Linked DNA regions of Homo sapiens. The protein of the gene in region 2 interacts with the protein of the main gene of each other region in a pairwise test. Each region holds a gene or a part of one and is shown on either strand. Other genes may lie near its edges.

Evidence for each region.
Region 1: the proteins of CEP44 (region 2) and POP5 interact in binary tests that used the Homo sapiens proteins (3 or more experiments, as listed by UniProt).
Region 3: the proteins of CEP44 (region 2) and RNF8 interact in binary tests that used the Homo sapiens proteins (3 or more experiments, as listed by UniProt).

The regions. Positions count from the first base shown.
Region 1 is NC_000012.12:120,579,915-120,583,668, reverse strand, and holds the start of POP5 (ribonuclease P/MRP protein subunit POP5), read left to right. Parts: upstream 1-2,266; 5' UTR 2,267-2,306; coding exon 2,307-2,326; intron 2,327-2,411; coding exon 2,412-2,554; intron 2,555-3,745; coding exon 3,746-3,754. UniProt on the Homo sapiens protein: Component of ribonuclease P, a protein complex that generates mature tRNA molecules by cleaving their 5'-ends. Also a component of the MRP ribonuclease complex, which cleaves pre-rRNA sequences.
Region 2 is NC_000004.12:174,307,770-174,311,523, reverse strand, and holds part of CEP44 (centrosomal protein of 44 kDa), read right to left. Parts: intron 2,836-3,754; coding exon 2,665-2,835; intron 1,675-2,664; coding exon 1,468-1,674; intron 742-1,467; coding exon 666-741; intron 1-665. UniProt on the Homo sapiens protein: Centriole-enriched microtubule-binding protein involved in centriole biogenesis. In collaboration with CEP295 and POC1B, is required for the centriole-to-centrosome conversion by ensuring the formation of bona fide centriole wall.
Region 3 is NC_000006.12:37,363,868-37,367,621, forward strand, and holds part of RNF8 (E3 ubiquitin-protein ligase RNF8), read left to right. Parts: intron 1-3,754. UniProt on the Homo sapiens protein: E3 ubiquitin-protein ligase that plays a key role in DNA damage signaling via 2 distinct roles: by mediating the 'Lys-63'-linked ubiquitination of histones H2A and H2AX and promoting the recruitment of DNA repair proteins at double-strand breaks (DSBs) sites, and by catalyzing 'Lys-48'-linked ubiquitination to remove target proteins from DNA damage sites.

The DNA.
Region 1 (3,754 bases), on a different chromosome or scaffold from region 2:
GAAGGCTGGGAGGAGTGAAATTTCTATGAGGGGTGGAGCGCTCAGGAGTTGGGGGTGTCTTGCTCTCTCCGCGCACTGCGGACCTCTGGCGCCCCCTGTTGGCCAAAGGAGGATGTCGCAGACACTTTCTGGTGAAAAGTTGTTCTTGGGTGGGGAGTGCCGTCACTGTCACTGGTCCCTTGGCAGGGCCACGGCGTTCCCTCTTCCTATTCTTTTCTTCCCTACCTTCCCCCACATCCCTCCTTTAAGGTGGCCAAGAAGAGTGGGAGATGGGAAAATTCAGAACTCATTCCAGATCTTGCAAAAATAGGTTGTGAAAGCTGCCCCCATTACGGACCTCACAGGACCAGCCAAGGCCAAGACACTTCTACAAATAATCAGGGATGGGCATAAAGACTAAGCTACAAAGCCATGCATCAAAGTATTGGGTATAACAAGAAAATCTAGAAATAATGTAAACGTCTACCAAAGGGATACTGACCAACTTCACAATGGTACGTCCAAACAATGCAATACTGCACAGCTAAAAAACAGTATTGTCGCTGAAGAGCTGACATGAAAATATAGCCAAATGGCCAGGCGTGGTAGCTCACGCCTGTAATCCCAGCACTTTGGGAGGCCGAGGTGGGTGGATCACCTGAGGTCAGGAGTTCAAGACCAGCCTGGCCAACATGGGGAAACCCTGTCCCTACTAAAAATACAAAAATTAGCCAGTTGTGGTGGCACACACCTGTAGTCCCAGCTACTTGGGAGGCTGAGGCAGGAGAATCGCCTGAATCCAGGAGGCAGAGGTTGCAGTGAGCTGAGATCGTGCTCCAGCTTGGGCAACAGAGTGAGACTCCGTCTCAAAAAACTAAATAAATAAATACAAAAATTAGCTGGTCGTGGTGGCAGGTGCCTGTAATCCCAGCTACTCGGGAGGCTGAGGCAGGAGAATCGCTTGAACTCAGGAGGCAGAGGTTGCAGCCAGCCTCCTGGCTGCATTTATATAAAGTTTAAGAACAGGCAAAATTAATCTAGCAGGGTAGAAGTGGTAATAGTGGCTGATAGCAGTAAGCAATTTGACTGGAAGAGGGCTCAGGGAACCTTCTGGGATACTGGAAATGCTCTTTATTTTAATCTTGGAGGTGGTTATAGAAGTCTATCCATATGTAAAAATTCATTGAGATGAATACACTTAAGAATATGTACTTTATGTAATACCCCATAAGACATTTTTTTTAAAATACTTAAAAATAAAAGAAAAAACATAATTTAACAGAGGGCATAGTTCTCAAGCTGTTTTCTCTGTCTCAGGACCCCTTTACACACGTTACTGAGGGTGCCCAAGAGCTTTTAGTTTTGTGGGTTATATTTACTATGGACATTAAAGTTGAGAAACGTTTAAAAAACAATACACAATTCCTAGAGCAGTGACGTCATCACGTCAAGCAGCCTCTGGAAAACTTGACTGTTCACTCAGAGAGAATGAAAAAGACAAGTAACATCTTAGCATTATTATGAAAGTAATTTTGACTTCGGGGACTCCCAAATCGAGTGAATTTAGGAAATCTCAGTGGTCCCCAGACGGCACTTTGAGAACCACTGGCGCAGGGAGAAAATGACAGAAGAAAACACACTACACGACAACAGTTATTCTCTCTCAGTGCTGGGATTATAATTTATTTGCTTCTTTGTGCTTTTCTGTCAAAAAAAAAAGGTAAACGGAAATGGAAAATACAATGACCACGTATTGTTTCTGCGAGCAAAAAACGAGACGGCACACTCGCCTCCCTAAGATTGCTGAAAGGCCCAAACAGCAATAGCATATTTAGCTGTATGGAAGAATTAAACTGAGCTCAAACCTGAAAATAAAAGTCCGATTTCCCGTTTGTCAATGCCTGGGCTGTGAGGTGCAGGGTCTTGCCCTCAAAAGCTCCACCGTTCACCTTGGGGAGAGAATATACTCGCATACATAACTGTGGTGCAAGGTTCCCAGGGCCCCAAGGGTAGCGGCTACATCCTACACACTATTGTAAACTTCAGTGTGCAACAGAACCATCCATTACAGCTGCAAGGCGCTCCATCCCGGGGTTCAGCCCTCAAACTAGTCAGTGACCCTCCGCAGGACGCATGCGCGCTTACAAACGCAGTTGGGCGGGGCTTGAGAGAGCTGACAGACTTCGGCCTCTCAACTTTCTAGCTCCGCCCTAATATCCTGTCTCCTTCTCTGAATGGCTGAAAGGCTGCGGAAGCAAGCTTCCCATTGGCAGCGGACAGAATTCACATCCGGTTTGCACGCCGGACCGGAGAGCGCGGAGGCAGCCATGGTGCGGTTCAAGCACAGGTAAGCATTCCCTTCCAGACCCTCCCAGTGCCTTGCTGGGTCCTCGCGGCCCCGCTAGTGTCCACCTTCCTCTCGCCTGCCGCAGGTACCTGCTCTGCGAACTGGTGTCTGACGACCCCCGCTGCCGCCTAAGCCTCGATGACCGAGTTCTGAGCAGCCTCGTACGGGACACGATCGCCAGGGTGCACGGAACTTTCGGCGCAGCCGCCTGCTCCATCGGCTTCGCGGGTGCAAGGGCGCTGGGGGAAGAGGGGAACCCGGGAGGATGGCGGGATGTGGAGGGGGCAGGCGCCGGAGGAAGAAAGAAGGGGCACGAGTGGCCAAGCCCGTGCACCGTTTTTTGTAAGGTATCTCTTTAAGCGCCTGGGACCCCAAGCGAGAGTCCGAAATTAGCAGAGCGCTAAAAGGAGGGGCCCGAAGGCAGTGGGGCTTTGAGCTAGAAGCCTCTTTTTACCTGCTTGACAGGTAATTTCTGTAATTGGTTGTGATTGAATTTGATAGGGTAGAGAATTAAATGAGGGAAGCTGTGTATACTTCCTAGTAAGAGCTATTATATGACCGATTACATTAACATCATATGGAAAAAAATTGTCAAAAGTACTCCGGGAAAGCCCTTAAATAGTTGGTAAAGTACAGAACACATGATTGTCAATATATGTAAATACAGGATGAGCTAGGACAGAGGGGCCCTTCTTTCACACCACTTAAATTAGTTCCCACTTTAACCTTGTTTGAGATTGACTTCTGGAGAGTTAAATGCAGATAGACTTAACTCTCCTAAGTCAGGTGAGACTGAGAGCTGACTGCTACAATAATTACGGAGCCCAAATGCAGTAAAACAGCCTGTTTTTCAGGCAAGGGTTTTGTGGGGGTTTTTCCTAAATTAAAACGGATCGCCTCCTACCTGCTCCTATTTATTGAATTAACTAGTGAATTAGAAAGCATTTTCAATTCTAAATTCATTCACCAGTTCTGAGTGGTGTGCAACACAGTGGGTGTTTTGGCTTTTCTCTTTTACTCGCTGATAGATCTACGTGCCACTTGCCTACAACATACTTTTGGCACATAGTAGGCTCTGTTACTCCAAAGTTTTCCTTTTTTCGAGACAGTCTGGCTGTTGCCCAGGCTGCTGGAGTGCAGCAGCGAGATCGGGGGTCATTGCTGCCTCTGCCTCCTGGGTTCAGGCGATTCTCATGCCTCAGCCTCCTGAGTGGCTGGAATTACAGGTGCGCACCACCACACCCAGCTAATTTTTGTATTTTTAGTAGAGACGGGGTTTCATCATGTTGGCCAGGCTGGCCTCGAACTCCTGACTTAAAGTGATCTGCCCGCCTCAGCCTCCCAAAGTGCTGGGATTACAGGCGTGAGCCACCACACAGAGCAAAAGTTTTCCAAAATGATTTTTCTTTCCTGTTGTAGTTCGATATC
Region 2 (3,754 bases):
AACTTAACGATGAATTCTCAATTGGACAAAACATCTCTTCTATAGCTATGATTTAATCATAGATATGGCACAAAATTTAGATCTTTTAAAAATACATAACAATCAAAACAAAGCTGTCACTGAAAAACAGAAATCTTACCCTTGCTGCTCAGTCACACTAAGCAAAATATCAGTAGCCTAGTAAAGTGACCAGGAAAAGACCTATCCTAATATCAGATCTTTCCCATTTTATCATTATCAGTGAACTATTCACATGGAAGAAGTTTGCAATACTTTATAGATACTGACAAATGTGTTTTCTTCTCTTACATATTATTATTTACATATGAGAAAGCTACTACCTACCTAAGCTTAAATTTAAAAACTTGGAGGCCAACATTAATATCCTAGAGCACTTGATTATTCTCGAATGATTAAAACAGTAAAATATCTCTAAAAATTTTCAATTTTGTACACTGAAATTTATTCACCCACTATGTTATGTGAAATAAGTAGGCTGGTTAGTTAAGCAATTCTTGGCTTTAGTAGTCTGTAGGTTCATTATGTTCTTTGTTCTAGGAGCTTTGCAATTTCTAAACAATAAAGCTTAAGAATATTAAAATTACTATAACAATCATTTTTCTGAAAACTCATCATACCAATTCTCATAGTATTTACAAACTTACGAGGATTCAGAAGGTCCATGTCACTACAAGAAGCGTAGTCTTCACTAACTTCATTAAACTCTATAAATTCATCATTCTGGAATAACACAGTTAAATATTTAGAATGAAATAAAAAGAAAAACCCTCTCATTTTATATTCTTAATGCTGAGCATAAAATATAAAGGTAGCATGATAAATGTTTAAATATTTTTAATTTTTTATTAAAGCAATACATATACTGCATATTCCTACATATAAGAAATGTTTTAAATATGGAAGCAGATAGCAAGCTACTTGACTTCACCTTCTAGGAAGGAAAGACAGACCAGAAATTGAAATCCTGAGTAAAAAAAAACAAATTTCTCAGATTTGATAAGGCAATGGTAAATCTGGTAACTATTCTATGAAATTCACAATATGATTGAAGTAAATGAGTGAAAAAAAGATGGGAAGAGTTACCTATATCTTCTGTATCTTTTCTACCCTATGAAAATAGGTTATTTGTACTATTAAAAGATATAAAATAATTTTAAGCTTTTCATATCTATCATATTCTTACCTCATTTTAAATTCTTCAAGCATTATTAACATCTGTAAAAGCTCAACTGACAAGTTTTTCAGATTATCTTATTCAATGAAGAGAGAAACAACAGCCACAACAACATACAGGCTATATTTAAACAGGACTTCATTCTAACTAGACATTTTCTCATTATTCAAATATTCTCATATTTAGCATTTCCAAAAAAATACACATATAACAATCAAAAAAAAACTTTGTTATATCTGAGATATTTTATAAATGTTAAAGGAGGAAAATACCTTTTTAGACAAAAGCATTTCTGTTTCAAGAAGAGTGACACGACTAAGAAGATTAGTCCAGGTGTTTTCATCTACCATCACTTTTCCTTTCATTTTTTGTTCCAAACAGTCTAACCTTTTCTCTATCGAAGTCAGTTTCTTAAGATTTTCTTGGCATTCAGCAAGCATAGTTTGTAGTGCAGTAATCTCAGGATTAACATTTACATCCTAAAAAGGTTAGAGAGATTAAAAATAAAATTAAACAAACTGAAATTTCTTTAAAATTAATGTATTCTCACTTCCACAGCGTTATCTCAACAGTTAGGAGAGACCGTCCTGCTTGAGAGTTAAGAGAGCTATCTCTGGATGGAGACTACTTGGCCACTTAAACCAGTTCTGAGATTTATGATCTTGATGCCTCCATTTCCTCATTAAAAAAAAAGAGATAAGAGCAGTATCTATTTCATATGATTCTTCTGATAATGAGTTAATTTGCATGATTCTCTTAATACCAGCTAGTAAAATAAAACTATTATTAACTAGCTTCTTGAAACAACGCTTAGCACAAAGCTAAGAGGAAATGACCAAAAACAACACTTAGTGCATTGAGATTGTTCGGTTTGCCATATAACAGGAAGTAGGTCCAATGGCCATCTGGTAGTTTTTGTAAGTGCCAACTGTATATTGATATACTGAGATATATAGAAATCACAAGACATAGAAACACAGAAAAAGAAGTCTTAGCAGAAACAGTAGAGATCAGACATATTGGGGTCTGTGGCAATTAAGAGTAATAGAAATGGTTTTTTAAGAGAGACAGAAAATAACAGCAGGGACCCAGAAAGGAAAATGAATAGGCAATAAAGTGCCAATCTTTTCCATTCACCAATAAAGAAAATAGGTGGTAGAGAACCTCCACTATGCAAAGTAGCATATCGCTATGTCTCACTAAATTGTAGATTCCTTAAAGCCAAGTACCATATCTTATTCTACTTTGCATCACCCCAACACTTAGCCCAGCACCCTACACATATGCAGCAAATATTTGTTGAATTATTTTAGTAAGACTTATTGACACTTCAGTAATTGTAACATAGATAAAATGTCATGATTAATAATTCAAAAGGCTAGAAATATTCCAAAGTTTAGAGGCTGAAATAATTACACATATTTAAGTAAAAAATACTGGCATCTATTTAAAAAGTCCAAAGTTGTTACCTGTTGCTCAGCCTTGATTTCAGGAACCTTTACTTCAGGCATCTTTATTTCAGTAGCATTTAAGTCAGACACATCAACTGCTTCATTAACATCTGTTATTGGACTTAATGTATCCTCAGAAATGTCAACATTATCTTCATTATACAAGTGACGAATCACCACAGCTTTCTTCTGCATAGAGAAAAATATGTAAGAAACACTTCAATGTTTTCCTCCCACAATTATTTATTTTTTAACTTTTAAGTTCAGGGGTCCATGTGCAGGTTTGTTACACAAGTAAATGTGTGCCATGGGGGTTTGTTGTGCAGATTATTTCATCACCCAGGTATTAAGCCTAGTACCCATTGGTTATTTTTCCTGAACCTCCTCCTACCCTCCACCCTCTGAAAGGCTCCAATGTGTTTTGTTTCCCTCTATGTGTCCATGTGATCTCATCATTTAGCTCCCACTTACAAGTGAGAACAAGTGGTATTTGGTTTTCTGTTTCTGCATTAATATGCTAAGGATAAGGGCCTCCAGCTCCATCCATGTCTCTGCAAAGGACATGATCCCATTATTTTTTACGGCTACAGAGTATTCCATAGTGTGTATGTACCACATCTTCTTTATCTGCTCTATCATTGATGGGCATTTAGGTTGATTCCATGTCTTTGCTATTGTATTTAGCTTGATTCCATGTCTTTGCTATTGTGAATAGTGCTGCAATGAACATATGCATGCATCTTTACAACAGAACAATTTATATTCCCTTAAGTATATACCAAGTAACGGGACTGCTGGGTCAAATGGTCTTTAGGTCTTTGAGGAATTGCCACACTGTCTTCCACGGTGGTTGAACTAACTTACACTCCCACCAACAGTGTATAAATGTTCCTTTTCTTCCACAAACTCACGAGCATCTGTTATTTTTAGACTTTTTAATAATAGTCATTCTGAGAAGCGTGACATGGTATCTCATTGTGGTTATGATTTGCATTTTTCTAATGATCAGTGATGTTGAGTTTTTTTCATGTGATTATTGGCTGCATGTATACCTTCTCTTCAGAAGTAGATGTTCATATCCTTTGTCCACTTTTTAATTAGGTTGTTT
Region 3 (3,754 bases), on a different chromosome or scaffold from region 2:
ATAAACCTCACATAATATTGAGTGAAAGAAGGCTGGGCGCTGTGGCTCACGCCTGTAATCCCAGCACTTTGGGAGGCCGAGGCGGGCGGATCACGAGGTCAGGAGATCGAGACCATCCTGGCTAACATGGTGAAACCCCGTCTCTACTAAAAATATAAAAAATTAGCCAGGCGTGGTGGCGGGTGCCTGTGGTCCCAGCTGCTCTGGAAGCTGAGGCAGGAGAATGGCATGAACCTGGGAGGCGGAGCTTGCAGTGAGCCGAGATCAGGCCATTGCACTCCAGCCTGGGGGACAGAGCGAGACTCTGTCTCAAAAAAAAAAAAAAAAAAAAATTGAGTGAAAGAAGACAGACACAAAAGAATACATATTATATGATGCCATTTATACAATGTTTAAAACCAGGCAAAATTTACATGTGCTGTTAAATCTGGATAGTAGTCACTTTATTGCCAAGGTGGCTACTGACTAGAAGGAGACACACAGGGGTTTCTGGGATGCTGATAATGTGGGGTTTGTTTTGTTTTTGACCTTATGGTAGTTACACTAAGATGTTCATTTTGTGACTGTTCATCGAGTTGGTACATTTATGATTTGTGCACGTTTATGTTTGCATGTTCCGCTTTAGTAAAGACTTTAAAAAATATATTGACGGATACATACTTAATACAATTGCTGAAATAAGACTTGATGATACCAAGTGCTGGCAAGCATGCAGAATAACTGGAACTCCTCAACATTCAAGTGTGAATATAAAATGGTACCTCCACTTTGAAAAACTGGTGGTTTCTAAGAGTCAAATATATACTTGTCCAGTGATCCTATTTCTAGGTATTTACCCAAGATTAATGAAAGCTTATGTTCTCGCAGAAACTTGTATGTGAATGTTTCTAGTGGCTTTATTTTTTTTGTTTTTATATTTTGAGATGGAGTTTCGCTCTTTTTGCCCAGGCTGGAGTGCAATGGCGTGAACCCGGCTCCCCAAACCTCTGCCTCCCGGGTTCAAGTGATTTTCCTGCCTCAGCCTCCCGAGTAGCTGGGATTACAGGCATGCGGCACCACGCCTGGCTAATTTTTGTCTTTTTAGTAGAGGTGGGTTTCACCATGTTGGCCAGGCTGGTCTTGAACTCCTAACCTCAGCTGATCCACCTGCCTCGGCTTCCCAAAGTGTTAGGATTACAGGCGTGAGCCACCACACCTGGCCTGTAGTGGCTTTATTAATATTCACCAAAAACTGGGAAAAAAAACAACTAGGGAATGGATAAACTGTGCTCCACCCCTACTACCTTCAATATTACTCAGCAATAAAATATAACAAACTGCCGATAATGCAACAGTGTGGACGAATCTCAGAGGCGTTACACTAAGTGAAAGAAGCAAGACTCAAAAGTGTAGATAATAAGATTCCATTTGTATTACATTCTGGGAAAGAGAAGAGAACAGATAAGTAGTTGCCTGGGAATGCGGGAAAGGTTGACTACCAAGGGGCACTGTTTCTTGATATAGTTACACAACTATATGTGTTTATAGATAAATGTAACTTTTAAAATACTGATACTTAGTTCCTATCTCAGACCACTTAACTCACTCCGAGGGTGAAACCTAGGCACTGCTCTTTGTTTTAAACCTTCCCAGGTAGTTTTACTGTATAGCCAGGGTTGAGAACCACTGAGCTACGTAAATTATCTAAAGCACTCCAAGAAAACATTGTCTTTTGGTTTGAGTGTCCACTTTCCTCAATAACTGTTTAAAAGCAGCTGGACAGAGATTGAGCATCTAGTGAAGTAATTCCTGTCTAAGTGGATGTGAATTATCCCACTTTTTTCCCATTGGTGGCTAGGACACATCAGGCAGACTTTTCTGGGTATCATTTTCTGCTGCTAGCATTGTTCAAATGGGTAGTTATGAAAACCAACATTAAGAAAGCCTTGAACAGAGCATGATTATTTAAGCCATTGTATTTGAGATCATATCTGGCAGTACTTGATTGTTCTGTACCGCCATGGGATTTTTGTCCTTTTCTAGTCTCCTTATATGAACAGACCTGACTCAGGGCTTGGTTTAAATTATACCACTAGATGTCACCAAGAAGTAATGAATGGGTAAATGTACAAGGATCCAAGGACAAAATGTGATGGGAGAATTTTGAGTTTACCTTCCAGCTTCTAAAAGGGCTCTGAAGGCAATGGGTTAATGTAGAGGATCTAATGGAAGGCTGCAACATATCGTGAAAGTTTGCCCCAGCTTCTGAGGGCAAACTTACTCTCTTTAGCTGTGGACTGTCAGAACTCAGAAGTTCTGAGGGCAAACTTCCTACTCTCTTTAGCTGTGGGCTGTTTCTGTAATCTTATTTATTTATTTTACCTTATCTTAGCTTTGGAGACTTCCTTTAAATTTCTGTACCTTGGCATTAGGTGGCCTTCTGTGTCTTACTACTTTTTCTGAGACCTTTTTCCTGTGTATAATCTAAAATCGACTGTCCTGCTCTAAAATTGTTCTCAGATAGATTGTTCTAGCTCCATCCCTCTCTGTTGTTATTTCTCATATGTTGTTTCAAAATTCAGCAAACCTTATCACTCCCCATAGTTTCTCAGGCTGAATAGAAAGAGTGTGAGGAGGTTTCCTAGATGAACCAGGTTAGGCCCAATGCACAGTGGGTTAAGACTAATATTTCTGTATGTATCTATGCCAGTCTTTCTTTCCGTGTAAACCAAGTAATGGAAGATAAAACTGGAAACAAGGGCCTAATGCCAAACCAGAGCTAAGATCTGATCTCTACTTTCCCTTTACCCTCTGTGCCTTGTGGTCAAGCCCCCTGTCCCTCATATTTGGGTTGACTGGAGATTTTTTTCTAGCTGAAAGTAGGTAGCTGTAGTTGCCAGTGTAAACATAAATCTTGGTCCCAATTCAGAAGTGAGCTTCATCTCTGGCCTATCCCCTGAACTTAAGTCCTTGATACGGGTTAAAATGCTCACCAGTATATTTCAACTCTGAATCTTGCCTTTGTTTCAAGTCTATTTTAGGACCTATCATCTCCATTTAGCATCCCATAGCTATCCCAGCTGCACATGATATTCCTTTGCATTTACAGGCTATGCCATGTAATCCCACATTTGCTCATTTGTGCCCTTGTGTTGTCTTTTCCACCATCAGCTGCTGAAAGCTTTCATGTCCTTTTCACTCAATATATTTACCTTGCGTGACATTGAGCATAGAGTTGAAATGATTGTTGATGAATCAGTTGAACCAAGGCATAGTAATAGTAGTGAACACTTACGTAATACGATGCCCAGGCACTGTCTAAATACTTGCCATATGTTATCTCATTAAATCCACACAGACACCATGAGGGAGAGACTTATTTTCCTCCATTTTATCAGTGCAGTAACTGGGCCATAAAGAGGTCAAGAAACCTGGCCAACATCACCCAGCTGCTAAATGATAGAGCCACATTACAAACCCAGGCAGTCTGACTCCAGGATCTGTGCTCTTAACCTCAATACTATGACTTCATTAAAACCATAAAAGTAAATTTTTATTTTATTTTATTTATTTTGGAGACAGAGTCTCGCTCTGTCACCCAGGCTGGAGTGCAGTGATGCAATCTTGGCTCACGGCATCCTCTGCCGCCTGGGTTCTAGTAATTCTCATGCCTTGGCCTCCCAAGTAGCTGGGATTACAGGCACCCACCACCACACCTGGCTAATTTTTGTATTTTTAGTAGAGAGGTGGTCTCACTGTGTTGGCCAGGGTGGTC